2 separate regions of the Homo sapiens genome follow, and region 1 is linked to region 2. Evidence: fine-mapped expression QTL. Tissue or cell type: whole blood. Region 2 holds a variant in brackets; the other region holds the start of a gene. All regions are shown on one strand. Distances are between the middles of the regions. Region 1 holds the start of GOLM1 (golgi membrane protein 1). Region 2 overlaps GOLM1 (golgi membrane protein 1).

Evidence for each region. PIP is the estimated chance that this variant, and not a neighbour inherited with it, causes the effect.
Region 1: GOLM1 starts here. The variant in region 2 is fine-mapped to the expression of GOLM1 in whole blood (TOPMed, PIP above 0.99).

The regions. Positions count from the first base shown.
Region 1 is chr9:86,090,604-86,107,738 of GRCh38, forward strand. GOLM1 (golgi membrane protein 1) reads right to left here and starts at 8,955. Exons shown (of 10, transcript NM_016548.4): 1 at 8,808-8,955. RefSeq lists silencers at 3,151-3,445, 8,527-8,576, 8,737-8,836, 8,847-9,166 and an enhancer at 8,396-8,896.
Region 2 is chr9:86,060,224-86,075,531 of GRCh38, forward strand. The region is part of intron 3 of GOLM1 (golgi membrane protein 1); the gene reads right to left. Among named protein-coding and RNA genes, the nearest start is that of GOLM1, 32 kb to the right of the region's middle. RefSeq lists enhancers at 2,461-3,377, 4,610-5,110, 5,111-6,111. The variant T/A (reference allele first, on the strand shown) is at 9,140.

The DNA of each region.
Region 1 (17,135 bases), 31 kb after region 2:
TCCCGGGGCAACTTCAGACTGCTGTGCTGGCAGCAAGAATTTCAAGCCAGTGTTTCTTAGCTTGCTGGGCTCCATTGGGGTGGAATCCAATGAGTTAGACCACTTGGCTCCCTGGCTTCAGCCTCCTTTCCAGGGGAGTGAACAGTTCTGTCTCGCTGGCGTTCCAAGTGCCACTGGGGTACCAAAAAAAAAAAAAAAAAAAAAAAAAAAACTCCTGCAGCTAGCTCAGTGTCTGCCCAAATGGCCGCCCAGTTTTGTGCTTGAAACCCAGGGCCCTGGTGGTGTAGGCACCTGAGGGTATCTCCTGGTCTGTGGGTTGCGAAGAGCATGGGAAAAGCGTAGTATCTGGGCCAGAGTGCACTGTCCCTCATGGCACAGTCCCTCATAGTTTCCCTTGGCTAGGGGAGGAGTTCCCCAACCCCTTGCACTTCCTAGATGAGGCGATGCCCCACCCTGCTTCTGCTCACCCTCTGTGGGCTGCATCCACCGTCTAACCAGTCCCAGTGAGATGAGCCAGGTACCTCAGTTGGAAATGCAGAAATCACCTGTCTTCTGTGTTGATCTCGCTGGGAGCTGCGGACCAGAGCTGTTGCTATTTGGCCATCTTACCAGCCACTCTGTTGTTGTTTTAAATAACCTAATCTTGTCAATCCTTTATTACTTCTCGATTGTTGTTATATTTAGAAGGGCATTTCCTATTCTAAGTTTATAAACAACTTACCCACATTTTTTTCCAATGTACAGTTTCATATTTACATTTAAATTGTTCATCCATTTAAAACTCCTTTTTGATGTAAGGAGTAAGGAAATACAAAGAATGCAGAAGTAAGGAAATACAAAGAATGCAGCTTTTTTTTTTCCTGTAGTGACAAGCCAGTTCTGCCAGGGCCCTCTACTGAATAATCTATTTTTACCTACTGCTTTGAACAACTATCTTTGTTATATACTAAATTTTCTAACAATATACTTTTTCTTAAAGAGATGGAATCTTGTCGCCCAGGCTGGAGTGCAGTGGTACAATCATGGCTCACTGCAGCCTTGAACTCCTGGACCTAAGCAATCCTCACACCTCAGTCTCCGAGTAGGCACATGCTGCCGCACATGGCTTGACAAAATACTTTTAGATGTGACCCTTGCAAGGCCTTTTGTTATTCTAGTAGAGGTAAGTCAGTGGGTGGGGTATATTATAAATTTGAAAGCAGAAAATAAACTCCATTCTCACTTCAAGGGAAGTGTACAGATAACCATTTAATATTCTCTTTTCTTTAAACAGCCAATAAAAAATTTATTGAGCAGCTACCATGAGTCAGGTGCTGTATTCACATCAGGCAGCTCAGGGTGGTATTAAGAGCACAGACTGGAATCCCATTGCCATATCTGAATCCTGGCTCCACCACTCAGGAACCCCACAGACTGGAGCCTCACAGCCATGTCTGACACTGGCTCCACCACTCAGGAACTCCAAGACTGGAACCCCACAACCATGTCTGACCCTTGCTCTACCACTCAGGGGACACAGGACCTGTCTGTGCATCACTGTCCTGCTCACAAGGTTTTTAAGAGGATTCAGTGAGTTGAGTGAGAAGCGCTTAGAGCTACATTTGGCACATAGTAATTGCTCAACAAATGTTGACAACTATTAGGGATGGAAAGATGAACAACAAATCATTTCTAGATTCAATCTTTTTTCCATTTTATGAGGAAACAGTGATGCATGTTTTCCTTCCATAACCATTCTACTTTATAGCAACCAGTCCTCCTCTTTCCTTCTCCTGACTCTGCCACCAACTAAAATAGCAGTACCTGCCATTACCTGGGGCTGACCTACAGTTGCCACTGAGGCCGTGGACATCCCAGACCAGGATCATATTATGAAAAAGGTTTGAGGAAGCCAAGCCTCAAACAGTCCTGGAAGTCATACAATCCTGGAAGCCCCTCACTGTCACCCAGTGCTTGGCTGGCCAGGAAGGTGAGCAGCTGTCTAGACAGCACTCTTAGGAGAGCCCTGGGCTCCCAATGGGAGCAGGGCTGCCCAGGTAAATAGTGACACAAGGAAAGGAAGTAACACAATGAGGCTTCAGGCCTGCAAGGTGCCTCCTCACAGGCTTCCAGGACTGTAGAAACCCTTGCTGCTGAAGGATAAGGGACACACACTGGCGAGAAATGATCAAGACTGATGAAGGCTGGTGGCAGGAACTCACAGGCAGAGTTTATGGTGGTCAAATACATCAGACACTCTCCCTTCTCCCACCTTAGAATTTATTTGGATTGCGGATGAGATGGAAGTGGGTGAGTGATATACTGCATCAAACAGAGGTATTAATTTAATATTCATTTTCATTTAAGCTTCAGAATATGTTTGTCTCATACTTGGTTATAAGCTTCCAACATACTGAAAATGATTAACTTAAATCAGCTAAACTCTGTGAGGCTCCAGGCTTTCCCAAAATTAAAACAAGTGGTGTGTTTTCACATTAAAAATCACTTGATAGGCTGGGTGTACACAGTGGCTCATGTGTATAATCCCAGCACTTTGGGAGGCCAAGGCAGACGATCACCTGAGGTCAGGAATTTGAGGCCAGCCTGGCCAACATATCAAAACCCTGTCTCTACTAAAAATACAATTAGCTGGGCATGGTGGTGTGTGCCTGTAATCCCAGCTACTTGGGAGGCTGAGGCAGGAGAATCGCTTGAACTTGGGAGGCAGAGGTTGCTGTGAGCCAAGATTGCGCCACTCACTCTAGCCTGAGTGACAGAGCGAGATTCTGCCTCAAAAAAAAAAAAAAAAAAAGAAACAACAACAAAAAAACCCCAAAATTATCTGGGTGTGGTGGCACACACCTGTAATTCCAGCTACTTGGGAGGCTAAGGCATGAGAATTGCTTGAACCCAGGAGATGGAGGTTGCAGTGAGTTGAGATTGCGTCACTGCATGCCAGCCTGGGCGACAGAGCAAGATTTCTGTCAAAAAAAAAAAAAAATCACTTGATAAATCAGAAAAGGAAAAAACTGCATATTCTTACCTACTGGCTTAATTTAAAAATTCAACCTATTGGTTAAAATTATTATTTGCTTTTAAGACAAAATGTTTGTAATTTAACAAAGCCTTCTAATTACTTTTTTTAAAAGAAAGAAAAGGCATATGAAAATGGACAACATGCCAAATACACGAGCCCCTTGACCCTCCTAGTCAAATATTATGTTTAACATTTCCTTATTTTCATATAGGGCTTTAAATCAGAAAAGCAAATATATAGGAGCAATCGCGTCAGATTAGCATGTTTGACCAACATCAACCAGTGCAGAAACTGGGCTTCTCCAAACAGTGGTGGAGCCACACCTCTAACTCCTTCTCAGAGGAATGGCCCCAGCGGCTCAGCAGGAAGTTCAGAAGTCACTGCAATGAGCAAACAGACCTGAGCACACCCCGGCGCAGCCTGGAGTCCGGGAAAGAATCAGTCACCAAGTTTTCTGATGGCCTGGAAATATTCCACCCTGTCCCAAGAATGTCTCTAAGCCAGGGGTGAGCAAACTATGGCCCACAGGCCATATCCGGGCCTGGTTTTTTTTTTTTTAAAGTTTTACTATACACTGCCATAAATACTGCCTATGGCTGCTTTCTGGCTACAAAGTAGAACTGAAAAGTTGAGACAGAGACAGAGACTCACAGACCAACTCTGCCCATAGGGTATTGTGAGGATTAAACATTTACCATCTGACCATTTAGACAGTTTGTCAACTCTGCCTCTAACCCATTGGGATTAAATGACCAAGGTCACTGTGTTCTGCTTAAATTGCTTTAAAAACTTACTAGGAAATACACAGACTCTCTTCCTCTCACTTCCCCAAAATGAACACCATCTTTTCCCCAATGCTAGAAGCTGACAGTGTCTAAAGATTAAAACTTTTAAAATGAATGTATAGTGGTAGGTAGTAGAAACACCAAAAAGCGAGGTGGATGAGTGAAAATGAACTAGGGAACCAAATTCTTCCTGTTTTGAAATTTTCTGAAGAAAGGTTGAACCACCGTCAAGAATATATCCTGGGGCCAGCACGATGGCTCACGTCTATAATCCCAGCACTTTGGTAGGCTGAGGCAGGAGGATCACTTGAGCCCAGGAATTCGAGACCAGATTGGGCAATGTTATGCAGGGAGACCCTGTCTCTACAAAAAAATATTTAAAAAAGAATACATCTTGGGCCAGGCACGGTGGCTAATGCCTGTAATCCCAGCACTTTGGGAGGCCAAGGCAGGCGGATCACCTGAGATCGGGAGTTCAAGACCAGCCTGACCAACATGGAGAAACCCTGTCTTTACTAAAAATACAAAATTAGCCGGGCGTGGTGGTGCATGCCTGTAATCCCAGATAGTTGGGAGGCTGACGCAGGAGAATCACTAGAACCTGGGAAGCGGAGTTTTCGGTGAGCCGAGATAGTGCCATTGCTCTCCAGCCTGGGCAAAAACCCCGTCTAAAAAAAAAAAAAAGAAAAAGAAAAGAAAAGAAAAAAGAATACATCTCAGTAGGAGCTCAATTTTTCCTTGAGTCACAAACTGCCGCCCAAGGGCCCAATCCTGCCAGCCATCTATTTTTGTACACTGCCCACAAATTAAGAATAGTTTTTACATTTTTTTTCTTTTTTTTTGAGACGAAGTCTTGCTTTGTCACCCAGGCTGGAGTGCAGTGGCGCAATCTCAGCTGTCTGTAACCTCTGCCTCCTGGGTTCAAGTGATTCGAATGTCTCAGCCTCCCAGGTAGCTGGAATTACAGGCACATGCCACCACGCCCAGCTAATTTTTGTATTTTCCCTTTTTTTTTTTTTTTAAAATAGAGATGGGGTTTCACCATGTTGGCCAGGTTGGTCTCGAACTCCTGACTTGAAGTGATCCGCCCACCTCAGCCTCCCAAAGTGCTGGGATTACAGGCATGAGCCAACGTGCCTGGCCAGTTTTTACATTTTCAATGGTTGAAGAAAGTTAAAAGAATAATATTTCATGACAGAGTGCTTCAAAGGGCTGAGATAAATTCTCCACATATTCCTGGCTGCCTGGAAGATTATGCGCGCGTGGGAAAGACCCAAAAGAGCCCAGCAGGGCTGAAAACCAAGAAGAACCGAGAACCAGCTGAAACTTGCAGTGTTCCCCAACTCGCACACAGACCTACTGATAGAGGGATGGAGACTGACCTGGCAGGTGACTCCTGGTTCAGTGCTCCTTGGAGAATTTGGATGCCATGAAGTGATATTAGATGTCAGTTTAGCTACCTGTTATTTTGAGTGCTTCCTTAGCGGTACTGTTGAGGCAGTGTGGCTTAGGAAAAGAGTACTGATGTGGGTCAGGCCAAAAGGAATTTTAATCCTAGCTTTCTTACTATTTGCATGAATTTTGGTGAGTTGTATAATCCCCCTCTCTGTATCTTATTCAATCCTTGTAAAAGTCCATTGAAGTAGGCTTACTACTGACCCCATGTTCTAGGATGCAGTGATATGAGACTTTAAATATGTAAAACCTTTTGTTGTGAGGATTAAAAATTACAGCGGCAATAAAGTACACACCACATGATAACTGCTCGATAGGTTTTTTTTTTTTTTTTGGTTTGGAAATAAAAGGATATCTCATGACACATGAAAATTACATGAAACTAAAACTTCTGTATCCATAAATAAAGTTTTACTGGAACAGAACCATGCCCATTCATTTACATATTATCTGTGGCTACTGGGCTATAACAGCAGAGCTGAGTAGTTGTGACAGGGACCACAGGGTCTGCAACATCTAAAATAGTATCTGGTCCTTTTCAGAAACAGGTTGCCAACTCCTGCTGTAGTTCAATGGTCCTTAAAGTGTGGTCCCCATATTAGCAGCATCAGCATTACCTTGGAATTTGTCAGAAATGCAAATTTTGTGGCCGACCCCAGACCTACCAAGTCAGAGGTCTGTTTATTCCACTAATAAATGCAAACACAGGACAGCAAAATACCGTGGCTGGCAAAGCTCTATACTGAGTCAGCCTTGCATGAGATACCTCATGAAGTAGAAACTATGCTGATGTAATCAGATCTGACAAGACACAGGCCCAAAATACTTAAAATTAAGAGAAAGAGTATTTAAAACAGGGTTTCTACCTCTAATGTTGTTAACAAATCCAGCCCTATGTGTATATTGGGCCTTGAGACACAATATAACCATAACAGCAAATACATGTAGTTTATAAATAAGCAACAAATGCACATACAGAAGAGTGTTAAAAAAGTTTTTTTATTACTAAGAAACATCAAAAAAGTTGGGAAACGATAGCAAATTACAATATAAACAACTATAATCATATTATATAGTATTTATATATGTACTTTTTTCTGTCAGGCACTAATCTTCAAAATCTTAGCAAGGGAAGTCCTACTAATAAAGTGCTTAAGGGTTTTAAAGGAAAATAAGACCAAAATGTAAAAATCTGAGAAGGCATGGACTTTTTTTTTTTTTTTTCCTGAAAGTGTGAGAAATATCTGTGTGAAAGAAAGGAAAGACTCTCTGGAAATTTAAGAAACACTTCATAAATTTGGAGACAAGTCTCTCTTTTAATGTAACTTCATCAATAACGTGAGAAGTCCAGAAAACCACCATGATCTTTAAGAACAGTTTTTGGGGAGCAAGTGAAATATCATTCGCCCTTTTCTAAGGTGAGAGCAAAAGCATAGTAGCACCATTCCTTCTGTTCCTTCTACTTTTTTACAAATGTTTAAAAAATTGTTTTGTTTTACAAAAACAGAAGTGCTTTTAAAAAATCCCAATTACAAATGTTATTTCTCACATTACGTCACTGAAAAAGAAATGTATCTTTTTTCATAGGGCAACTTATTTTTTTTTTATTTCAAGAAAAAACAAGTAATAACAATAATGCTGCAGAATTTAAGCCAAAGGCACAGAACACCGCTCCCCCGCCCCCAATGGCCACCCCAGGTCCTTTGAGAAAGGCGGCTGGACCTCAGGGACCACGCTGCCTTCAAGCTCCCTCCCACCAATAGTGCCCATCAACTGACACCTGTCTTCTTCTCAGCACACCTGCCTAAAGTGATGCTCCACCCTTCCTACTGATCCACGCAGACGCATTTTCCCCAGGTTCTGCCCTCTGTACTTCCAATGCAGAAAGCCAGCTCGCACTTTCACAGGATAAGGGTAGCAGTTCCCTCCTTCCTGGGGAAGGTGGCCATATATATATAAACCCGGGTAGCCCTGGGCCTGCTATGGTCAGCTGTCCTAACTGTTGTTTCTGCCCAGCCCTCAACAACAACAACAACAGCGGGTGGAATGTAAATGCAAAATCTTTTCATTTCCCATCAATAACTGGACCTAAACCAGCCATTAGAAAGCAGATGGTATCCCTGGCCCTTAATATCCAAGTCACCACAATTTCCTGGCCCCACCCTCAGCACTACTTTCCTCTCATTTCTTTCGTTTTCCTGTAAAACCAACTTTAAAAAAAAATGTGAAAATTGGATAACCTCTCCATAGGAGAACAAAATGTATCTTAAAAGCTAACCTCTTTTCTTTAACCATCCTAACAATTCAATTTTTGTTCACTGACACCTTAAGAATTGAGTGTCTGGCCTAAAAACAGTAAGTCTTAGCAAGTTACTAGTTTCTATTAAGAAAGAAAGTAATGAGCTTAGCTTCATCTTTTATAACACAACTGGAAGAAGCTAGGATGCCTTTGGAGACCCACAAAAACTGACAAGAGATTGTCCCATGCCCTCCAAAATTCAGAAATACTAAAACTGAGATTTGAGCCAACCTGATGGCCATGAGCTAAACAAAGCCACTCAAGCGCTGCTAAATACTTCATCAGGTTATTGTGTATCTCACTAATCCAGCCCTAGAAATGTTCCTCAATAATGTGCATAATGTAGGGCCTAGGGACCCCAAATCAGACAAAGAAAACCTCAAAATCGTGAAAGTCACACAAGTTTAGTTTTGCAAATCTGGCTATGGGACATCTGAAATTGTCCAGCATCATCATGGTATTTCAAATATAATAATTCTTAAATTTTGCTAAAAAATTTCATCAAAATTGTTATTCTTCACATTTTGTTTCTTAAAAGCAAATCATTAAAAATATTAAATGGGATATGATTTTTACAGCAGGGCAAAGTTGTGTGGATCCTCCACGTTGGCAAAGGTGGAAACACAGGTATGCGAGAAAACCCCGAGCATCCACGAGAACGGGATGCAGCCGCGCTCTGGACGCGCGGCGGGAGGACCCGGAGCCCAAGCTCCGGGGTCACCAGCCACGAGGCCCAGCGGCAACGTGGACCCCAGGGCGGCCGGAGCGCGCCTGGGGCTGGAGGGGAGGAAGAGGCGGCGGGAGCCGAGAGACTCGCGGCTCGGCCAGCCTCCCGCGCCTGGTGCAAATCACGCTGCAGAACTGGAACTAGTGCGACTTAGGGGGTGCACGCTTTTGACTTTGGATGCCGACGCGCGTGACAAAGCTCAGAACAAAAAGACAGGCCCCGCATCGCCTGAGACTGCAGGGCAGGGAATCCTCGCGAGGCCCCTCATCGCAGGGCAAGGGGGCCGCGCGCCCGGTCTTGGGGAGCGAGCCGAGGGGCCCAGGCAGCCGCGGGCTACTCGGTGCAGGAAGGTGCGGAGCCAGCCCCGAGCGCAGCCAGCGAAGGTTGCAGCCCCGGCGCAAGCCGCGGGGAGGCTCCGGGGACCGACGCGAGGTCTCGGCGCGCGGGGTACGGGCCCTGGGCAAAGGAGGGAGGAAGCGATGGACCGCGGTTCGGGCAGCCTGGGGCCGCGCGCCGCCCACTCACCTCTTTTCGAGGCTCCGGCCGCCACTCGGGGATCCGGGGCCCCGCTACGAGGCCGCCCGGGTCGCTCTCCCGCCGCCGCCGGCCTCGAGCTCCGGCCGGCTCCGCGCCGTGCGCCCAGCGCCTCCGCGTCCAGCGCCGCCGCGTCTCCGGCCTCCGCAGCGGCAAGGCCCCGCCCCCGAGCAGCGCCGGCGGCGCGAAGGGAGGAGGCGGCGCCGCGAGCGCGGAGAAGCGAGGCAGGGGCTGCCGGGGCCGCGCGGACTCCCGGCCCCACGGTGCGCGCGCCCCGGCCGGTGGCCGCCCCTCGGCGGGAGCAGGAACGCCAGCGTGCGCCCAGTTCTCGCCGCTGGGCGTTGCCCCTTCCCCCGGGCCACCCCATCGCCCCTTCCGACGCGGGAGCTGGCGCCTGAGCAGCGACGCGGAGCGGGGAAGCGGCTGTGGGGAAAGGGTACCTGGGGGGAGCCCCCATCCCACGTTCCGCCCCGAGGGAATGTTCCCGAACAGCCAACCGCACCCAGCGCCACACTCACGTTACCTTCTTTATAAAAGTCGTCGGGTCAAAACTGCCCAGAGAAGGAAGCGAACGAAAAACAGGTTTTTAGGGGGCTTATACTCACAAAATTGTCTTTTTTCTCCCACGAGGCATTCCCTGTTGACCATCATCTCGCCTCGGTTGTCACCGCTCAGGCCTTAGTGTTTGGTCTGTGACCCTTCCACTGCTAGCAACGGAAAAAGTGAAGATTCCCGGACGCCTTCGGGTGTGATCTTATAGCCCGGGCAGCTGCATTTGAAACAGCGCCTCAGATGACGCTCAGGCGCACTGATGTTTGAGAAGCCCTATGAGGCCGTACCTCCCGGAGAGAATGCCACAAAACTAGTGACCTACAGGGAAACCATGCTAGAAAATTCTAAAGCAATGGTTCTTAACTCTGGCAGCACCTGCCATCCATTAGAATTATTTGGGGAGCTTTTAGAGCATTTAGGAACCAGGGTCCCACTTCCAGAGTTCAAAGTGAACTTGATATTTTTTGTTTGTTTTGAGCTTCCCAGATAATCCTAATACAGTATACGGCCAAGATTGAGAACAGTTTTCCTAGAATCATGTCTTCATGTCTTCCTAGCTCTGGTGTCTGGGAAAGGAAACTCCTTCCTCTGCGCCTCTCTCAAATCACAATAAAAAAACAAGTAAATACATGAACACCTAAAGGAATGCTCACAGCTGAAATTGATTTTAACCAGAACAAAGAGTCACCTTAAAAAAGGTGATCAAGATACCCTATTGCTACCTGAGCATGGAGCTTCTTAACTGCAGGAAACGTATCTTTACCAGCTAAAACCTCTTAGCTGAATTAGAAGCTGACCATACATGACCCCTTTAGAGGAATGTTCTACTATATTCCAAAATGATATTTTTGTTATCTGCAACTGTTAAACTGTTGTAGGGTCAGACCAAAGCATTCAGAAGCTGAGGCTGTATCAGATGTCAGCCCTGGTTTTGCAGACTTAAGTTGTGTCACTTTGATCTTCTAGTGAGCTTAAATAACCATAATCGGGGACAGGTACAGGAAATTCCCTTTCTTGCCCATTTTAGCTCTCTTAGTATAGTTTACATTCTTAGACTGGTGGACTGTAACTTCTATATCATTTGGCTCTAAGGAGGGTCTCCATTAGTCTCTCATTTATCAGCAACTAATTAGCGACTCACTCAGTGATTCTTAAACACTTTATGGAACAGGTCCATATGTCTAGGTGCTAAGGCAGCTGGCTGAATGAGCTATATTTTAATTGAAGATGAATTAGTCCTTTTCGTTAGATTCTTTATGACAAAAGTTGAAAATTTTAAGATGCAGTTTTATATATATCTATATACATAATTTACATTCCTTATAAAAAAGCTAATCAGTTGCTGGCCCTGAAAATTCAATTGGATGGGTTTTGATTAAACAATGTGCAAGGGGCTACAGTGGTTGGTTGAAGGAAGCATCCATGTTTTGCCTGTTAAGCATCCTTTCCTTAATGTCTTAGTCCATTTTGTGTTGCTATAACACAATTCCACAGACTCAGTAATTTATAAAGAAAAGAAATGTATTTCTCATAGTTCTGAAGGCTAGGAAGTCTAATATCAAGGTGCTGGCATCTTGCAAGGGCCTTCTTGCTGCATCAGCCTGTGGTGGAAGGCAGAAGGGCAAGAGGGTGTATGTGAAATTGAACTTGCAGCCTCAAACCCTCTATAATTGGCATTAATTTATTTATAAGAGTGGAGCCTTTATGACCTAAACACCTCCCTTTGGGCCCCACCTCCCAACACTGTTGCACTGGAGATTCAGTTTTCAACACGTGCTTTATGGAGCACACATTCAAACCATAGCATTCTGCTTCTATGCCCCCCACCACCCCCAGTTCATATCCTTCTCACATACAAAATACATTTATTCCATCCCAACAGCCCTAAAGGCTTTAATATTTATTTATTTATTTATTTATTTTGAGACAGGGTTTCACTCTGTCCCCCCGGCAGAAGTGCAGTGGTGTGATCATGGCTCACTACAGCCTCAACCTCCTGGGCTCAGGTGATTCTCCCACCTCAGCCTCCTGAGTAACTGGGACTACAGGTGTATGCCATCATGCTCAGCTAATTTTTTTGGTATTTTTTGTAGAGATGAGGTTTTGACATGTGGCCCAGGCTGGTCTCAAACTCCTGGGCTCAAGCAATCCACCTGCCTCAGCCTTCGAGAGTGGTGGGACTACAGTCATGAGCCACTGCACCTGGCAGCCCTAAGGTCTTCACTCTAGCACCAACTAGAAAGTCCAGAGTCTCATCTAAATCAGATATGAGCAAGATTCAAGGCACAATTCATCCTAAGACAAATTCCTCCAGCAATGAGCCTGTGAAATTAAAACAAATTATTTACTTCCAAAATACAATGGTGGCACAGGCACAGTATAGGTATTCACATTCCCAAAGGGAGAAATATGTAAGATAAAGGGGTAACTGGTCCCAAGTAAGTCCAAAACCCAACAGGGAAAAAATAACATTAAATCCCAAAGCCTCAGAATAGCCTTTCTTGACTATATCTCACCTTCTAAGCATACTAGGGTGGGAGTTGGACCCCCAAGGTCTTGGGCTGCCCCATCTGTATAACTTGGCTGGGTGTAGTCATGTCACAGAACCTCATGGTTTGTAGTCTCATGTCTAAAGCTCTTCCAAGCTGTGTTGCACACTGGTAGCTCTACAGTTCTGGGGGCTCTGGGACAGCCCCAACCCCACAGTTCCATTGGTCATTGTCCTAGTGGTGGTTCCCTGCTATGGCTTTGCTTCCATGGCTCCACTAGGCATTTCCCTGGTAGGGAATCTCTGTGGCAGTTCTGCCCCTACGGCAAGTTTCTGCCTGTATCCCCAGGCTGTCCAGTACATTCTTTGGAATCTAGGTGGAGGCTGCCATAGCCCCATAGCTCATGAACTCTGTGTACCTTCAGAATTAGCACCACATGGATGCCGCCAAGGCCCACCACTTACACCCTCTAGAACAGTAGCCTAAGCCACAGCTGGGCCCACTTGAGCCACACAGCTGCAACAGCTGTGGAGTGCTGTGCTGGAAAGCGGGGAGCAGATACTTGAGGCAGTGCCTGGTAGCAAATGCTGAGGTCCTGTGGCCACGTCTCTGGAAACCTTGCCTTCAAGGTCCTGCTCTGGGCCTGTGATGGAAGGGGCAACCTAAAAAATCTCTGAAATGCCATTGGGGTCTTTCTTGTCTTGATGAATAGCACCTGACTCCTTTCTAGCCATGGTAATCTCTTTAGCAAGGGGTCCACTGGACTATATCCCTACAAGGACTTACATCTTTATGAGGCTCTCCCAAACATGCCTTTGCACTCTTGGCCAGGCTGAAAATTTTCAAAATTTTTTTCTGCTTCCTTTTTAGTTATAAATTTCATCTTTTAATCATTTATTTCTTCTCTAATTTTACTGTAAGCAGCCAAAACAATCCATGCAACACCTTGAATGCTTTACTGCTTAGACATTTCTTCTGCTAGATATCCTAGTTCATTGCTCTTAAATGCTGCCTTCTTTTCTCTAGCTTACCTTATTGTAAGAATACAGTTTATAATACATATAACATGCAAAATATGTGTTAACTGTTTATGTTATCAGTAAGGCTACCAGTCAACAGTAGGCTATCAGTAGTTAAGTTTTGGGGGAATCAAAGTTAAATGCAGATTTCCAACTGTGCAGAGATGGGGGTGTCCCTAACCCGTAGATTGTTCAAGGGTAAACTGCATGAAATAAATTGAATTGAACAGACTAAAAAGTATTTGCTGTAAATATCTTGCTGTGTTTGCTTTCAGTATCCATTATTTCCTTTCTCAGGTACCAACATCATCATTTTTTGGAGAACTATTTCTCCCTGACTTTTCAATCCTAAATATCTGTCATAAGCTGAACAGTTGCCCCCTGCCAAAGATATATCCATGCTCTAATCCCCAGAACCTTTAAATATTATCTTATATGGCAAAGTATGTAATTAGGGTAAGGATCATGAGAGGGGGCTCTTATCCTGGATTATCTGGGTAGGCTATGAATAAACCGTAAGTGTCCTTATAATGGAAAGGAAATGGGAGTTTTGAGACAGAAAATAGAAGGCAAATGTGACTACGGAGGGCAGAGACTGGAGTATGGGGCCACAAGCCAAGGATGTCTTCGGCCACGGGAAGCTGGAACGGTTTCCCTGCTATAGCCTTTGGAAGAACACCTCCAGAACTATGAGGGAATAAAATTTCAATTGTTTTACGCCATCCAGGTTGGGTAATTCGTTATAACAGCCATAAGAAATTGTTACAATGTCCAATTCTATAGGCTATAGTAATTGGTTCAGGGAGAGGCACATGACCCAATTAGTCCAGTAAGACTCCATTATAGGACAATCCCTGGAACTACTGAGACAGAAAAGTTATCTTTTCCTATGAAGGCAGCCCATATTGGGAGAATATAGGCCTCAAGCTGTTTATGGCCATCACGGAGAGACCTGGGCCTTATATGTGGAGAAAGATAGAGACAAATACCTAGTGTTGATTATGTCATTTGAACTTCTGGATCAAGCCATATCTGAAGCTAGGTCTATCCCTGGACTTAGCAGTTTTATCAGCCAATTAACTTCTCATTTTACTTAAGCCAGTAATGAAATGGGTTTCTGTCACAAGCAGGCAAAATAATCCTGACTAATAGAGTCTTAGAATCCTTTTGTTACCTGGTAGGTTTGCCAGTTAAATATGAACTTCAGATTAACAACAAATAATTGTTTTAGTACAAGTATTTCCCAAATGTACCATGGGACAGATACTAAAAAAATTATGTGTTGTTTTTCTGAAATTCAGATTTAACCGGGTATCCTGTTTGGTTTTTGCCATTGTTTTGTTTTTGCTCTCTGGAAATCCTGTGTTGGAAGAAGGTTTTTTACTGATTATTCCAAACCTTTGAAAGGTCAGGTTGTTGTAGTACAAAGGAAAGTAGAAATTCCTGGACGTTGATCCATCCTCATTCTAGAGTAGATGGCTCTTGTAATTTTAAGCATTCAAGTAACTGCCTTCAGTCTTCTGTATTGATTGGGGTTGTAAAACAGTGTGATTGTACCTCCATGGTGTCATGAACCTGGATGTGATTTGGAATTGAGAAGGACATATTAGTTTGTAAAAGCTTCCCATCGCTTAGTAAAGAGGTGCCGTAGTGTATTGTGAGACCTGTAACATCTTTTGACTGATGCTCTTACAGAGCTGCCTTCACCATTTGCTCTTCTTGGTGTGGGGTACACGTTAGAGACAGGTCCAAATGCCAAGGACTGCAGAGGAACCAGCCAGAGGGGCAGGGCAGAGCTGTGTGCAATGCCTGTCAGTTTCCTTGAGCAAGTAGGAAGGAAAAGGACCATGCTGGAGGGTATCCTGTTACATGGGGACCAGTTTGAAGATGTGAGGTCTGGTATATATTAGGTTGGTGCAAAAGTAATGGCAAAAGCCACAATTACTTTTTTTAGGTTGATGCAAAAATAATTGGGGCTCTTGCCATTACTTTTGCACCAAGCTAATATAAGGTAACACCCTGGTCCAGTGTATATGGGAAAGGTGTGTGTTTGTGCATCAAGATGAAGTTGTACAAAAAATGTTCTTCTACTTTACTAATGCTTGCATGCCTTTTGTTCTCAGAATACTCCCTCAGCTCCTTCAAAAGGCTTCTGAAGTAGGTTAGCTTTTTGACCTTGAGGCTTATAACGGTGGAATGAGAGATTCCATGGTTTATTTTAACTGTGCAGCAATATTAAGAATACTTGTAAACTTACAAACTTAAGAAGTTGCCTGGCTCAATGATTCTTCTACTATAGCTTATTTTTAAATGACTTTTGAGAAAGGAGGATACTTATTTAAAATAGTTTGGGGCTGGCGTGGTGTGGTAGCTCACGCCTGTAATCCTAACACTTTGGGAGGACAAGGTGGGTGGATTGCTTGAGCTCAGGAGTTCGAGACCAGCCTGGGCAACATGGGGAAAACCCGTCTCTACAAAAAAAAAAAAAAACAAAAAAGTCGCCAGGTGTGGTGGCACACGCCTGTACTCCCAGCTACTTGGGAGGCTGAGGTGGGAGGATCGCTTCAGCCCAGGAGGAGGTCAAGACGTCAGTGAACCAAGATTGCATCACTACACTCCAGCCAGGGTGACAAAGTGAGACCCTGTCTCAAAAAATTAAAAAAAAAAAGTTTGAAATATCAACATCAATTGTATTTCAGTGGTTTTAGTCCTTTGTTTTGATGTGTATTTGTTTTTCACACAAGCATGTGCTTATGGGCTGTGGAATAGAGCACTTGCACCCAATTCTTCTCATCCTACCTTGATTTGTGTGCCCATAGACCTCTCATGTTATGAAACTTGACGAGTTCTCTGCACCTAGAAAAATTTTCTCATAACCTGAGTTAAGAATCAAGGCACCGGCCAGGCTTTATGGCTCACGCCTGTAATCCCAACACTTTGGGAGGCCAAGGCAGGTGGATCACTTGAGGTCAGAAGTTCGAGACCGGCCTGGCCAACATGGTGAAATCCTGTCTCTACTAAAAATAAAAAAAAAATTAGCTGGGCATTATGGTGCACGCCTGTAATCCCAGCTACTTGGGAGGCTGAGGCAAGAGAATCACTTGAACCCAGGAAGCGGAGGTTACGTGAGTTGAGATCACGCCACTCCACTCCAGTCTGGGGCACAGAGTGAGACTCCGTCTCAAAAAAAAAGAAGGCAGGGCACAGTGGCTCACGCCTGTAATCCAGCACTTTGGGAAGCCGAGGCAAGTGGATCATGAGGTCAGGAGATCGAGACCATCCTGGCTAACGTGGTAAAACCCCGTCTCTATGAAACATACAAAAAATTAGCTGGTGTGGTGGTGGGTGCCTGTAGTCCCAGCTATTTGGGAGGCTGAGGCAGGAGAATGGTGTGAACCCAGGAGGGCGGAGCTTGCAGTGAGCCGAGATCGCACCACTGCACTCCAGCCTGGGCGACAGAGTGAGAATTCATCTCAAAAAAAAAAAAAAAAAAAGTGAACCAAGGCATCCACCAAGGGTGACATGGTGAGGTCACATCTATGTGGGTTTTGAAATGAGTCATGCCCAGTATTAGTCATCAGAAAGAAAGAACATAGAACATCTAAGGTAGGTGGGAGAGAGGGCCAGTCCTGCTTTCTTGGTCTACAGCAGTGGTTGTGTCACTATGTTAGGTGTTAAAAGACAAACACAGAAAAACAAAAATCACATGTTCTCACTTAAATGTGGGGGCTAAAAAAAAGTGGATCTTATGAAGGTAGAGAGTAGATTGGTGATCACCCGAGGCTGGGAAGGGTGGAGGGGAGGATGAAGAGAGGTTGACTAATACAGTTCAACTACACGGTTTGACAGAAGAACTAAGAACTAGTAATTGATAGACCAGTAGGGTGACTACAGTTTACAGTAGTTTATTGTATGTTTCAAATAGCTAGAAGACAATAATTTGAATGTGTTCCTAGCACAAAGAGAAGACAAATATTTAATGTGATAGATATTCTAATCACACTGATTTAATCTTTAGAAATATATGAATGTTCAACTACACGGTTTGACAGAAGAACTAAGAACTAGTAATTGATAGACCAGTAGGGTGACTACAGTTTACAGTAGTTTATTGTATATTTCAAATAGCTAGAAGACAATAATTTGAATGTGTTCCTAGCACAAAGAGAAGACAAATATTTAATGTGATAGATATTCTAATCACACTGATTTAATCTTTAGAAATATATGAATGTTCAACTACACGGTTTGACAGAAGA
Region 2 (15,308 bases):
ACAGCCACCTGCAGCTAGGGACAGCAAGTTCCAGAGGAATAAGAAGGTGGGGGCAAAGAGGGAGACAGAGAAGGGGAGGGAGACAGGGAAAGCGGGGAGAGGGAAGGAGAGAGAGGCAGAGACTTGCAAACAAGTCATTTATGGCATCCTGCTAAGATTACACACTCACACACTCATTCACACACACAAACAACAAGACAAGCAGTGACTCCCAAATGCTTCATGCCTACAGCCACCACTGAGCCAAATGGTGGGTCGCTGGATGCATGTTCCCATAGGGACAAGGGCACAAAGTGATGAGGAAACTAGTCCAGTCCACAAGCCCCTAAAGATGACATGATTATGTTTTGTGGGTTAAGAAGTTACATAACACACAGGCCGGGCGCAGCAGCTCACGCCTGTAATCCCAGCACTTTGGGAGGCCGAGGCGGGTGGATCACCTGAGGTCAGGAGTTCCAGACCAGCCTCAACATGGAGAAGCCCCGTCTCTACTAAAAATACAAAATTAACTGGGTGTGGTGGTGCATGCCTGTAATCCCAGCTACTTGGGAGGCTGAGGCAGGAGAATTGCTTGAACCTGGGAGGCAGAGGTTGCGGTGAGCCGAGATTGTGCCATTGCACTCCAGCCTGGGCAACAAGAGCGAAACTCTCTCAAAAAAAAAAAAAAAAAAAAAAAAAAAAAAAAAAAAAAGAAGAAGAAGAAGAAGTTACACAACACAGAAATGTTGTGACTGACACTGAATACTTGACATGAGGAATTCCTGGATGTTTTGGTATGATCATGGTATTGTGGCTATGAGAGACAGACAATCCCACCTTTTCAGGACGTGTGCTGAAATAGTCATGGTTAAAACGGCACGAGTTGTAATCGCTGAAGCTTGGCACTGGATGTGTGGGGGCTCACTGGGTCACTCTGTCTACCTTTTCATGTTTACGGTTTTCTACAATCAGCCAACACACACAGGCACACATAAGCTTGCCACATTGATAATTAAATCTGCCAAGTACAATTTTTTAAAAATCTTAACTTCAAGGCTGGTTTTAGAGGAAAAGAAAGGTGAATTAGAAGATGCTGAGATAAACCTGTTGTCTGGAGAAATTTGAGGTAGATTCAAGAACTTTTAGAAGGGCAGGTCTTTGCTGCAGTATTTCTCATTTGTAATTTCACTCCTAAAATTAAGCAATTTTCTTTTCATAGTATAGCTCCATCAACAATTATCAACTATGACAAATGGCCTTCGAAGCTCACTAATGAGGATAAAGGGAGGAAAAAGAAAAGAAAAACGAGTAACAGAGAAAGAGGGCAGCAGAGGGAAGACCGGGATGGGAGAGATTTTCTTGAAGACCTGAGACTGTGGCATCCGGTTTGGGATCTGCTGCTAATTTGCTCCTTGACTTTGGACGCTTCGTTTAACTTCTCTGTGCCTCTGTTTCCCCAAAGTGGAACCTAAGCAGGGTGGCCTGCTGAGTTTTATTTAAAGGGGCACCTTACAGACACCTCAAGTGGGAACCCAAATATGGGGGCATGGGTCAGAGTGTGAATGAGTGTCTGTGAGTGTGAGTTGAACTGAGTGTGAGAATACCAACAGGAGGAGAGGAGTGGCTAAAGGTTTAGGGGATAGAGTCAAATGTCAGCGTAAATGGTAGGATCCTGGTCAGAGAGCAGCTGAGGAGGCTTCAGGGCAGGGGACCCAGATGGGCAGAAAGGCGGGTCTGGACCTGCAGCTATGGGACAGTGTGCACAAGTCACCAAGTTTAAATGGAAGGGCGTCGGGAGATTAAGTGTAACTTTCTACAAAGCTTCAGAAAACACCATCTATCCAGGAAAACACGTAGGACACACAGACACAGTTGCTACACGCCCAGAATAGCTCCTGCCAACACATCCCTGTGTTGTCACAGGGAAGGTAACATCCTCCCACCCCATCCACCTTGCAGCTTGGCGGGTGTGGGAAAGCACCTCGCTGGGAGAGTGCAGGATGCTCCCAGGACCCGCCCTGGGGTCACCCGGGTGCCCAGCTTGGCAGAACAAGGTCCATGAGGTGTGGTGGCCATCACAGACATAAGCACAGGGTTGATGGCGAGGGGGCCTGAACCCAAGACTGGCTCACACCCTCCCCCAGCATCTCCTGCACAGGGCACACTGCAGGTGCTTTGGGGAGGGAGGAGAGAGGATGGGGAGGAGGGGAAGGGGAGGAAGGAGAGAGCAAAGGATGGTGAGGAGAGGGAGAGAAAGGAGGACAGAGGGAAGGGAGGACGGGGGAGGAGGGAGGAAGAGGAGGAGGGAGAATGGAGGGAGAGGAGGAGGGAAGAAAAGAGGACAGAGTAGGATGGAGGAAAGGGATGGAAGGAAGAGGAGAGAGACAGGGTCTGGAGGGGAGGAGGGCAAGAGGAGGATGGAGGGAGGAAAAGGACAAAGGAAGGGAGAGGGGTGGAGGGACAGAAAGGAAGAGGAAGGATGGAGGGAGGGGAGGCAGGAGGAAGGAAAAAGGAGGAGAAGCAAACGGGGGGGGCTGCCCTTGCCTCTGAGAACCTGCTACACTGTCTCCTTTGGTAGCAGCCTGCCCCTGTGCCTCTAACCTACACGTGACTTGGGTCAAATAAAACTTCCAGGAGGATCCAAACCTGAAGGACAGTGGGAACCCCAGAATGCACTTTGAGGCTTCTCTAGCAGTGGACGAGCGCCTGTCTTCTTAGTCCCTGACCCTGGATCTTTCTGAAGGTCTCCTCATCACCCAGCTGCCAGGGAACCTGGCTGCCCCTGAAGCAGCTCACACTGGTCTGTCCCCTCTGCAGCACCACCCAAGCTGCCCCTCAGCTCTTCCCGCTGCTCTCACTCCTGAACACTTAAGGAGATGGCAGGGGAGGAGCTGCCGAACCAGAGGAGCACCCCACACACTGCCAACAGGGCTTGACCCAGGAGCGGGGGCTTGAAAAGCTCCAGCTCCGTTTTTAGAGGAAGAAGAATGCCGGATTACAACACAGCACCAGCAATCTGGATATTCGTTCCCTGGCTGTTCTTTAACCAGCCAGGAAATGCCCTGTGCAAGGGCTGGAGGCCTGGGGCTGCAGACTCCCAATCTCAATGGGCACCCCAGGGCTGAGCCACCTGAGGGCACTGGGGGTTTCCATTTTCAAACGGGAATCCTAGCAGCTTCCCTGCTCCCACCTGCGGAAGAGGAGACACTTTTGTACATTCTGACTTTCTGCAGACAGGTAAAAAGGCGTACACAGACCTTTGGGGATGAAAGAGAAACTAAAACTGAACCAAGTGTACAGGTTACAGCGTCACAGTCAAGGCACCTAACAGACCCTACTTACTGTTTGTTCTTAAACATGAATGACTGCAGATCCCTGCCAGAGACGGTAAGTGAAAAAACAGCTACCTCCTATTTTCTTTACGTATTTCCCATCAAACGCCTGTCTTGGGTTGGGTTAAGAATTACAGAAGGTAAACGGAGTCAATTCCAAGTCACTCAAGCAATTTTCTGTGTGAAGAGAGAACAAGACAAAAGCCAACCACAACAGCAAAACCCAAAGCCTCCGTTACGCCTTCTATGGCAATCAAACACGCCAACGCTCTTTCTAGTGCGTATGAAGCCAAGGCCAAGAGCGAGGACACCTGCAGGATTTGGTTCTGTCCCATTAGGAACAGAGATCAATGCACATGAAATCCATGCCTCGTCTGGTCAGCCGCTAACCATCGTGGGCAACCTCACATTGCACGACAATGCTTTCCATGTGGAACTTGTCCATGGCATGTTTAAAAATCAAACCACGTCCTGAATCAAATAGGCATCTGAGTCTTCTCCTGAGGTCCAGGACATCCCATGACAGGCTCAGGCCCCTCCCTGGAGGTGGGAGGTGAGGACCCAGCACTAGGACACCCACTGAGGCACAGTCTGCAGTGAAGGACATCTACCTGAATGGCATGTTTGCTGCTTCTCCTACAAATGTATTTTTAAGTGTGGGAAGCAAATTACTTGAGTTTAATTATAAACCTGTATTTGAAGGTTGAATCCAATTGACAAACTGGAGAATTTCCAATCTAAAAAGACTAGAAGTCTTCTGAGACAAACACTTTTATTTTCAGGGCAGCAAATTTTCAATGGATTTTACTGACCTGCTTCCATTCTGCTCAATTCACACTTTCCCGCACCTATCCCATCTGTCACGGGGCCTGTTGATCCCTCCTCTTGGCTGCCTCCCAAATCTGCTCACTTTGCAGAGCTCATCCTACTCCTGCCCAAATTCAGTGCAACATCACTTTTTACTCCAAGTATTTCAAGAGCTGCCTCACTGTGCTGCCTCCTCTCTGCCCTGCTCCCCACCCAGCCCTCTCCCCACATGGCCAGGGCCTGCCTTTTAAATCCCACATCTGACCACACTGCTCCATCACAGCTTAAACCCTATGACGGCTTCCCCGGTCTTGAACTCAAGTCCAAACTCCTTCAAACTCAAGTCCAAACTCCTGCACCCCAACATCACACTCTGCTCGGGCCCAGCCACTCGCAGTTCCCTAGGCACCCTTCCAGGTTAGACACTGTGGGGGACAGCGCTGCTGACTCCCATGGCCCTTGAGCCGCCTGCCTGGTGGGGGATGCAGCAGATCGGCTCCTCCACGTCGGTTCCACACGCCTTTTGCTGTGCTTTCCTGAACCACAAAGGCTCGGAAGCTAAAATGCACCTTCCAGAATCATTTCCAGTGGGATTCTGCCTCCAATCAGATGCACTTACTGGAGGCTAGAATGTGGAACAGAGTGAGGGTGTGGGAGGTGCAGAACAGAGAAAGTGGGGTGCCCCTGACTCTGGGCCTGCACTGCAGCAGAACCCCGCTGGTCTCACGCTCTACGCTGGGCACAGGGGCAGGTCCTGAGATAGTGCCTGAGAGCCACCCCACCTCAATGCAGGCCCTTCCCACAGCTTACAGTATCTATTTCCCTGTATCAAATCCTTCCTGCTTAAAATATCTGGGTGGTTTCTCTGTCTACACTGACCCCACTACACTCACTTCCTCATCTTTGTCCAGCACTCAATGGTAAATGTGCAATGAACACAGCCTCCCCACCACTGGGCACAGGCCAGGGCAGAACAGAACAAATACTGAACGGACTGACAGAACTGGACCCGGAAAATCGGTGAGAATAAAAACAGAAAAGCTGCTCTAGAACTCTGGATTCATCAATCACAGCGATTAAAGGTGATAAAAATCAAAGACACCACTTTTATCTGCACAAGATCGCTTTGGTTCCCCCAGAAGACAATCATTACATTCGCAGGTGCACAAGCAAAGCTGGCCCAGAGAGAAGACACCAGAACCCTCTGAGAATTGCATCTGGCCACAGGAGAATGCAGTCTGGTGGGGCCAGTGTGACGAGCAGACCTGGCAGCCCCCGGCAGCCCCACGCCGGCCACTCTCAGGTGCCGGGAGCCTTCCATGACCTCTCTGGCTCTCACTCTCTTCCCCTCTGTCTCAAGCGACAAGAATGACTGTCTCCTAAAGAAATGAAGTTAGAAATTAAATATGTTCATGTCGGGCTGGGTGCGGTGGCACACACCTGTAACCCCAGCACTTTGGGAGGCTGAGGAGGGTAGATCACGAGGTCAGAAGTTCAAGACCAGCCTGGCCAACATGGTGAAACCCCATCTCTACTAAAAATACAAAAATAAGCCAGGCGTGGTGGCACCTGCCTGTAATCCCAGCTACTCGGGAGGCTGAGGCAGGAGAATCATATGAACCCGGGAGGCGGAGGTTGCAGTGAGCCAAGATTACGCCACTGTACTCCAGCCTGGGTGACACAGTGAGACTCTGTCTCCAGAAAATAAATAAATATGTTCATGTTACAAAAGCACTCTGAAACTCTCAAGTAGGACCAATGACCAGACTTGTTAATTATTTTATTTTGAAGAGGCAAAATCTTTCAGCAAAAGTCACTCATAAACAAATGCTGTTGTATTTGAGGGAAGTGACCCCATCCCAGGCTCAGAAGACACTCAAGAACGCACTCCATGAACCAGCTCTTTACAAGAGAAAAGCACTGTAAACACCTCAGAGCCTCCTCGTACCCCAAGTTACTGTGCAAGAGGAGAAACCGGGCAGCTCCCTGAAACCACCTGGACATGGGTACAGGTCACACAGGCAAGCATGACAACAGTGAGGCTGAGCGCCCCCTGCACTTTCCCACTGCCTCTTTAAGCTTTTCTTCTTCTGGACACAAAACGATAAGCAAGTCACCAACACCTCTGTTCTTCCACTCAGCAATCTTTTTGTTTTAACTCAGTTGCTCCCCTTCAGGAAAGATACAAGAACTCTATTTTCATGACAAAGGAACTGTTGCTAAAACATTACCTTTGCACCTCTGCAATATTAATGCACATATTTTAACAAATAAGTAAAAAGTATAAATGTCAAAGTGGATGTGCAGCTGCGAGAAACCAGCCGAGCGAGAATGTTACAAGTGCAAATGCTGAAAATGAAGCTATTTGTGACTGAACTTTTGGCAAGCAAAAATGAACACAATAGCAGGAAGATGTGCCTTTCCCTTCACGAAGTGCTAGTAAGTAATTCAGGGTCTCCCAGACTCTTCCCCAAGCATTTCAGAGGGCAGGTGATGCCACCCCCAAGCCTTTGTGGCCACTACTGGCCACTGAACAGCAGTTAGCCAAGAGGGGACCCAGGATCTTTGGAAGTCTTCAGACCCAAATTATTATTATTACTATTATTATTATTATTTAGATGGAGTCTCGCTGTCACCCAGGCTAGAGTGCTTGGCATGGTCTCAGCTCACTGCAACCTCTGCCTCCCAGGTTCAAGTCATTCTCCTGCCTTAGCCTCCCAAGTAGCTGGGATTACAGGCATGCACCACCACACCCAGCTAATTTTTGTATTTTTAGTAGAGACGGCATTTCGCCATGCTGACTGAACTCCTGACCTCAAGTGATCCACCGGCCTTGGCCTCCCAAAGTGCTGGGATTACAGGTATCAGCCACCATGCCTGGCCCAGACCCAAATTATTAATCAGCCTGTGTTAACAACATAAAAGAATGAATTAAACCACTCTGTGCCCTCCTTAGGAGAGAATGCACACCTTTACAAGTGAATCTCCATTGGCTTCTACCAAAAACTAAAACCCAAGTATCTGTTTCTAGTTAGGCCCCTTAAAAACCTGTTTTATATGTACACATATATGAATCTGTAAAAAAGAAAACAGTATTTCACTGGTGGTTGCGTGAAGATTATTTCTATGCACACGAATGTGGTAGTTTAAAAACATTACCACAAATTAATTGACACTAACTCCCAAAGGGGGAGTCCAATTCCCCTGAAATTCGGGGCAGCCTTAGTGACTTGCTTCTAATGAATGTAGAAGTGACCACACTCATTTCCAAGGCAAGGTCAACAAAAGGGGCCGTCGGTTGAACAGTGTACACCTAAAATTCATGTCCATGTTGAACCTGTGAAGGAGCCCATGAATGACCTCATTTAGAAACAGGGTTGGCCGGGCGCAGTGGCTCATGCCTGTAATCCCAGCACTTTGGGAGGCCGAGGCGGGCGGATCACCTGAGGTCAGGAGTTCAAGACCAGCCTAGCCAATGTGGTGAAACCCCATCTCTACTAAAAATACAAAAAACATTAGCTGGGCATGGTGGTGGGTGCCTGTAGTCCCAACTACTTAGGAGGCTGAGGCAGGAGAATGACTTGAACCTGGAAGGTGGAGGTTGCAGCGAACCAAGATCACATCACTGGACTCCAGCCTGGGGCGACAGAGTGAGACTCCGTCTCAAAAATAAATAAATAAATAAATAAATTTAAAAAAAAAGAAACAAGGTCTACGCAGATGTACTTAAATTAAAATGAGGTCGCTAGGTGGGCCCTATCCAATATGACTGGTGTTCTTATAAGAGGAGGAGAAGAGGCGAAAAGAAAGACTGAGAGGCAAGCAGGCCATGTGAGGTGGAAATTGCACAAAACTGCACTTACAAGCTGAGGAACGTCAAAGGTGTCAGCAAACACTAGAAGCCAGAGAGGCGAGGTAGTGTCCTCCCACAGCCCTGCTGGCACCTGAATTTCAGGCTTCTAGCCCTCAAAACTGTAAAAGTATACATTTTTGTTGTTTTAAGCTATCTAGTCTGTATTAATTTGTACGCAGCCCTAGGACCCAAATACAAAAGATGACACAGCTTCCTCCCGCTGGTCAGGTCTGCTGTGAGCGAGGATGCTAACTCTCAAAACCCAGCCCTTGCTGAAAAGAAGCCACACTGCCACGTGGAAAAGGGAGTGTAGGTGTCTTGGTCCTGGCCCCTGCCCCTGCCCAGGTCTCAGGTGACAGCTGCACTTACTGCCAGGCCCCTGAGTAAGGGACTCTCTGATCATTCTAACCTCAGCCTTCAAGGCACCCCAGACATGCAGTGCAGAGTAGAGACAACCCGTTCCCACTGAGCTTTCCCAAACTGCAGATGCAGGAGCAAAATACATGTTTGTTATGGGTTTAACTATGTTTGGGGATAACCTGATATGCAGTAACAGATAACAAAAACAACACGTGTGTCTAAATTCACCAGAACCAAACGTATGCTTTGTGTTCAAAACATAGTTACCAGTCCCAACTGGGTATCAGGGAAGTCTACAGAAGCTCCCTTCTGCAAACAGGTATGCAGAGTCCTCTTGTCTGCAATTATACCTCTCAGTGTCTACTTACAAAGTGGTTGCCTCAACTAAGATAGTAAGGTACAATAAGCCAACAATGTCTGGGTTTTTTTTTTTAACAATATGCAAAAGCCAGAAATGGCTAAACGTTTTATCATTTAAAGAACCCCACTTATATTCTACAATTTTCATGGCATACCTACATTTATAAAGTATTATAAGTATATTATTAAGTAGTAACTAATAAAAGCTTACATGTAATCTCTATTTTTTTTTTTAAAGAAAGGGAGTGGAGAGTTCTCAATAGCTAATTTCTGAGTGAGAACTACAGGTGAATTTTTCTTTTTTGTTTTCAAATTTGCTTATAACATTATTTTAATTAAGGAAAAGCCAACTTTTTTGGAAAGTTACTTAACATACACAATCATTGCAAAAGGCGGCTTAATATCCTTTCTTATACACAGAAAAGGAAGTGTGGTGCTTCTACTAAGT[T/A]ACATAAATTCTCATGAACTTGCACAACTGCACTGATGCAGTCAAACCATCTTCACCACACCTACTACTGCAACAGACAGGGAGGCAAAAAAGAAAGGAAACGGAAATGGCAGCTCAATCCCCAAGAACTGAGTCTCACTCATCTGAAGTATTTACTCTCGAATGAGCACAGTCTGCAGGATTTGGTTCAGATTAACGAGACATAATCTAATTAACCCATTAATACTCTAGCCAGTGGACGGATTCCTCCTGTGTGAGGTTCCTCCTCTCATCCAGTGGGCTATGGGTGTGGGGTCGTTAAAATGGAACACACATGGCCACCTAGCCTTCCACATGGGCAGAGGGTTAGCTGAGGCCAGCAATGACACCTGCCATTTTACATCTTTATCTCGCAACACTCTTCCCAACTTAGGTGGGACCTGTCACACCTCCACATTCCTTTTCTAATCCTCTGACTGCACTGAAATGCTGTCCTTCTACCCTTCTCTAAATCCCATTTTAGTCTCCAAGGCTCAAAGCCAATCTTTTTTTCTTTTTTTGAGATGAAGTCTCACTTTGTCACCCAGGCTGGAGTGCAGTAGTGCAGTCCTGGCTCACTGCAACCTCCGCCTCCCGGGTTCAAGCGATTCTCCTGCCTCAGCCTGCAGAGTAGCTGGGATTTCAGGTGCCTGCCACCACACCCGGATAATTTTTTGTATTTTTGGTAGAGACAGGGTTTCACCATGTTGGCGAGGCTGGTCTGGATCTCCTGACCTCATGATCTGCCTGCCTCAGCCTCCCAAAGTGCTGGGATTACAGGCGTGAGCCACCGTGTCCGACCTAAAGCCAATCTTTTTAGAGAAAAAAACAAAACAAAACTGCAACTGCTTTAGCCAATACCCATCTCTCCTTTCATGTAACTCCACCTGCTGTTAAACATTGATTATTTTCACCCAGCACAGTGGGTCATGCCTCTAATCCCAGTACTTTGGGAGGCCAAGGTGGGCGGATCACGAGCTCAGGAGTTCAAGACCAGCCTGGCCAGGATGGTGAAACCCTGTCTCTACTAGAAACACAAAAATTAGCCGGGTGTGGTGGCACGTGACTGTAATCCTAGCTACTTGGGAGGCTGAGGCAAATAACTGCTTGAACCCAGGAGGCGGAGGTTGCAGTGAGCTGAGATCATGCCACTGCACTCCAGCCTGGGCGACAGAGCGAGACTCCACCTCAAAAAAAAAAAACAAAAAAAACCTGATTATTCTCTAGATATGTGAGGGAATCTCATCTTCCTCCAAAACAGCATTCAAGCTGCTAAGGACACAGGGCCCCAGGCACATCCTAGACATCCAGTAAGTACTGGTACATGGACTGAGATTCCCATTCATTCATTTACCACGAACTCGAACTTTTACTAAGTAACAGTCTCAAACCCATGAGATAAGCTAATTGATCAGGCGCAAAACTTAGATTGCAAGAAATAAGAAAAGAGTGAAATATTACACACAGAAATGTAGGGCCAAAGGATCTGATCTGCAGGCCAGGAAGTTGTACAAAGTGAAATATAACAGCAGGAACGTTCTGTGGCAACAGCTAATAAAAATGAGAGGATGTACAACCATCCAGCTACTTAACGTCCAGGTGTATCTCTATATCTTTCCAGACTCTTTTGACCATGACCCACAATGATAAATTTTATCTTGTGATTCAGTACAAACATTTACACACATATATACATGTACACACACACACACACACACACACACACGTATATTTAGAAACAGGGTCTCGCTCTGTCACCTAGGCTGGAGCACAGTGGTGCAATTATAGTTCATTGAACCTCAAACTCCTGGGCTCAAGGTGATCCACCCACCTCAGCTTCCTGAGTAGCTAGGACTACAGGCATGCAACAACCATTCCCAGTTACTTTTTAATTTTCTGTAGAGACAGGGTCTCAGTATGTTGCCCAGGCTGGTCTTGAACTCCTGGCCTCAAGCAATCCTCCCGCCTTAGCCTCCCAAAGCACCTATTTTTTTTAATATAAAATGCAACAATGGTGGTCAGGCATGGTAGCTCATGCCTGTAATCCCAGCACTTTGGGAGGTCAAGGCAGGTGGATCACTTGAAGTCAGGAGTTCGAGACCAGCCTGGCCAACACGGAGAAACCCCGTCTCTACTAAAAATACAAAAATTAGCCGGGTGTGGTGGTGCAGGTCTGTAATCCCAGCTACTCGGGAGGCTGTGAGAAACGCTGTGAGGTGGAGGTGGAGGTTGCAGTGAGCCGAGATCGTGCCACTGCACTCCAGCCTGGGCAACAGAGTGAGACTCTGTCTCAAAAAGAAAAAAAAAAAAGCAATAATAGTTTCATAACGCAACAGTTAACATATACAATAACACTCTAATATTTTTAGTTTTTTAAGACGTGGGTCATTATCCACTAAATTATTAAGCATAGCTCACTAAAAGGTCCCAAACTGTAGTTGGCAAACACTGCAAGCTTGGAAAACCCCCAGGTGCCTGAGCAGCACTGTATGAGTATACTCACTGTACCTTCTCTCAAGGAGTAAAAAACTAGAAACAAAGGCTTACAATAAGGAGTGGGTAAATAAACTGGGGTATATTTATACAAAGAAAGAGGGTACAGCAGTGAGAAAGAATGAACTAAATCTATCAAATCAATAAAGACCTCAAAAACAATGGTGACTACAAAAAGCAAGTTATAAAATGATAGTGACCAAACATATACATTAAAACCAGAGAAAAAATATACATGTTGTTTTTGAACGTGTATAGTAATAGTTCAGAAATATAAGCTACAAAGACAATCATTAACATTCACAACAGTGGTTGTACAGGCAGGAGGGAAAGGAGAGAAGAGACGGAGAAGGGGAACATAGAGAACCTTGACTGTATTTATGATGTTTTTTGCTTTAAATAATATCTGGGTGAGGGGCACGCAGGTGTGAGCTTATTATTCATCTGACCTCTCTGCATGTCCAGCTATTTCATAAGAAAACCATTCTATGTCTCATTATGTCACCATCACACAGCTGTTGAGAAGCTCATGCAATGTCTTACACTTGCCCACCCACCCTGGGTGACATTCTAAGGGGTGTCTGAGCAAGCCTGTCTCAGTGCTGAGGACCTCGAGATCCACGTATACACAAATCCTGGGTGAGATGGCTATTCTGGGAAAAAAGCAGTGATGAGTAAGTTTCCAATCTGGCACAGCTTTGAAAAATGTTCAAGGATTCCAGTAAATGTGGGTAAAGATGAAAGAAATCCCTCAGAAAAACAAGCATTAACTCAATTACTTTGTAACAGCTCTATCAAATTACATTTAGATGAATTACAGTCATGCATTGCTTAATGATGGGGATAGGCTCTGAGAAATGCATCATTATGAGATTTTGTCTTTGTGTAACCATCATAGAATGCACTTATACAAACCTGGATATTATAGCCTACTGTACACCTAGGCTGTATGCTACAGCCTAATGCTCCCAGGCTACAAACCTGTACAGCATGGGACTGTACTGAATACTGCAGGCCTTGTAACACAGTGGTAAGTATTTGTGTATCTAAACACAGAAAAGATACAGTAAAAGTAGTAAGTATTTGTGTATCTGAACATAGAAAAGATTAGAATTTGATGGGTCCATAATTGACCAAAACATCACATGTGGCGCATGACTGCATACATCTTAATTACAATGCCCTTTAATTTTTAAATCACTTCACTGAAGAAGGGTAAAAAGGAAACTGAAAAAAAGATAACCTTGACAATGCATTTTTATTTTTAAAAGTGTAATTCTGCAAAACACTTGATCTCAATCACCGGTTTCTAGATCAGCTAGCTGCATCACAGTGGTCTGGAAGTTTAGAAAAAAAAAAAAGTACATGTATGAATATGTGTATGTTTATATATATGTGAGATATTTTTAAAAATTCTATATTCTGAGCCCAAACATCCAGAGAGTCTGATCTAGTGTATATTTTTAATCTGTATTTTGTTCATAAGCTCGCAGGTGGTTATCACGAGCAGCCAGGTGAGGACGGATTGCTCTGAAACAACTTCCATAACAAATAAGATCAAAACCCCAAGCTGGGGTGTAAACAAAAGCTGATTTGATAAGCTGAACAGATCATTCTGCATCAGAACACCAGCAAGCTGCAGAGACTTACTTTCAGGGGGGTGCACAACTCCCCAGGTTGAAGGTGATTTCATCTTCCATTGCCCAATTGCCCACACTGCTCCCGAACCTTACAGAGAAGGGGGAAAGGCACCAAGGAACCACAGGAGACTCAGACTCTGCCCTCCGCTCCACTGAGGAACATGGCTCCCTATGACTCAGAGGCCCAAACAAGGTTTTCCCCAGCATTCTGCCAACCACACAAACCCGTGCTGTCCAATGTGACCATTATTTGGCTATTTACATTTAAGTTCGATAAAATTAAATAAAATTCAGTTCTTCAGTCCCACTAGCCACATTTCAGGTATTCATTAGACTCATGTGGCTGGTGGCTACTGTACTATAAACATTTCTGCCATCATAGAAAATTCTATCAGACAGGGCCTACCCAAAGCAGTAATTTCATTATGAACAGGTGTTTGTTCACATTTTCCCTGATGACAGGTTTGGTTTCCAAGCTTTTGTCCAGCCCCCAACTTGAGGGATATAACACCTACCCAGAGTGACAGTGACTGCTTGAGGTGAGGAACGCTGGCAGAGACAGGCAGGGAAATCTCTAGGTCAGGTGTCATTTGCAAACCACCCCCAGCCACAGGTCCCCACACCCCAGCTCCTCCCATGGCTGAGAATCACCATGGTTCTTTAAAATTTTTTTAAGGAGACTTGTTCCAGTTCTAACCACAAATGCTAACCTTCTAAGATTTAAAAAAAAAAAAAAAAAAAAGACAGACAATGTATAAAAAAGTATTTAGGTGAAGGATAAGCCCATCCATGTAGCCAAAATAGAGCTAGTTAGAACACAGCAGTCTTTGGAAGCAAGGAGATCTAAAGAAGATGTTTTTAAAGTTTCTACTGTGAAGTCTTTAATGCAGACAAAGGTAAACAAGCTAGCATGCTGAACTCCCATGTACCCATCACCAGCTTCAGCACTGACCAACTCAAGCCCATCTGGTTTCCTCTATCCCCCTTCCCCTCCACCTTGGCGCCCTTCAGGTGCGGGCAGCCAAGAAGTTGTGTCTGCACTGAAGGAAGGCGGCGGCCAGTGTGCAGGGGTGGAGGCTGGCCTGGGGGCTCTCTAGGGTCTAGGTGTCATCCTGGTGACAGCTGCTAACTCTCTGAGCTTCCATTCACTAATAATATGAGCCCCAATCTCGTCAGACTGCTGGGAGGAATTAATGAAACAGTCCCTGTGAAATGCTCAGCCTCACGTCTGGCCAAGCACAGGCTCAGGAAACGTTCACTCCTGTGGCTGGTGTGGTGCCTGTCATCGTTCTCCTTCCATAGCCCCACCACACTGCTTGCTCTTGGTTCCACCTCCCTCAGTGTCTTCCTAACTCTTTTTAAAGCTAGCACAATTTGGTTTCATGGTTTCAATTTGGGAGGAAAAAAAAAATCTGCTACGGTCTGAGTGTGGGTGTCCTTCAAAATCCACACATTGAAACCAAATCACCAAATACCAAATGGAGGCGATAATGTTAGGAGCCGAGACCTCTGGGAGAGTCAAGCCCTCATACATGGGATTAGTGCCATAAAAGAGGCCCCAGAGAGCTGCCTTGCCCCTTCCACCAGGCAAGGACACCGCAAGAAGAAGGCATCCATGAACCTGGAAGTGGGCCCTCACCAGATGAATCTGCCCCGTCTTGATCTCTGACTTCCCAGCCTCCAGACCTGTGAGAATAAATACTTGTTGTTTATACGCTGCTCAGTTTATGATATTTTGTTATAGCAGCCTTAAACAGACTAAGACAAAGTCCATACAGAAAGAGATAACATTATCACCGCTGCTGCGGTGGCTTACGACTGCGCCCACCACTGCTGCTGTGATCATGGCCTCGACTGCCGTTGGTACAATTAGGTGTAATAATACCAACCACCAGCTGCTGAGCTTTCATTCTAGGTTGAGCACTGGGTTAAACGCTTTATAAATATTATCTCATTCAATCCTCACAGGCACCCTGTGAGATTCCTTTCTCATTTCCACTTGACAGTTGAGAAAACAG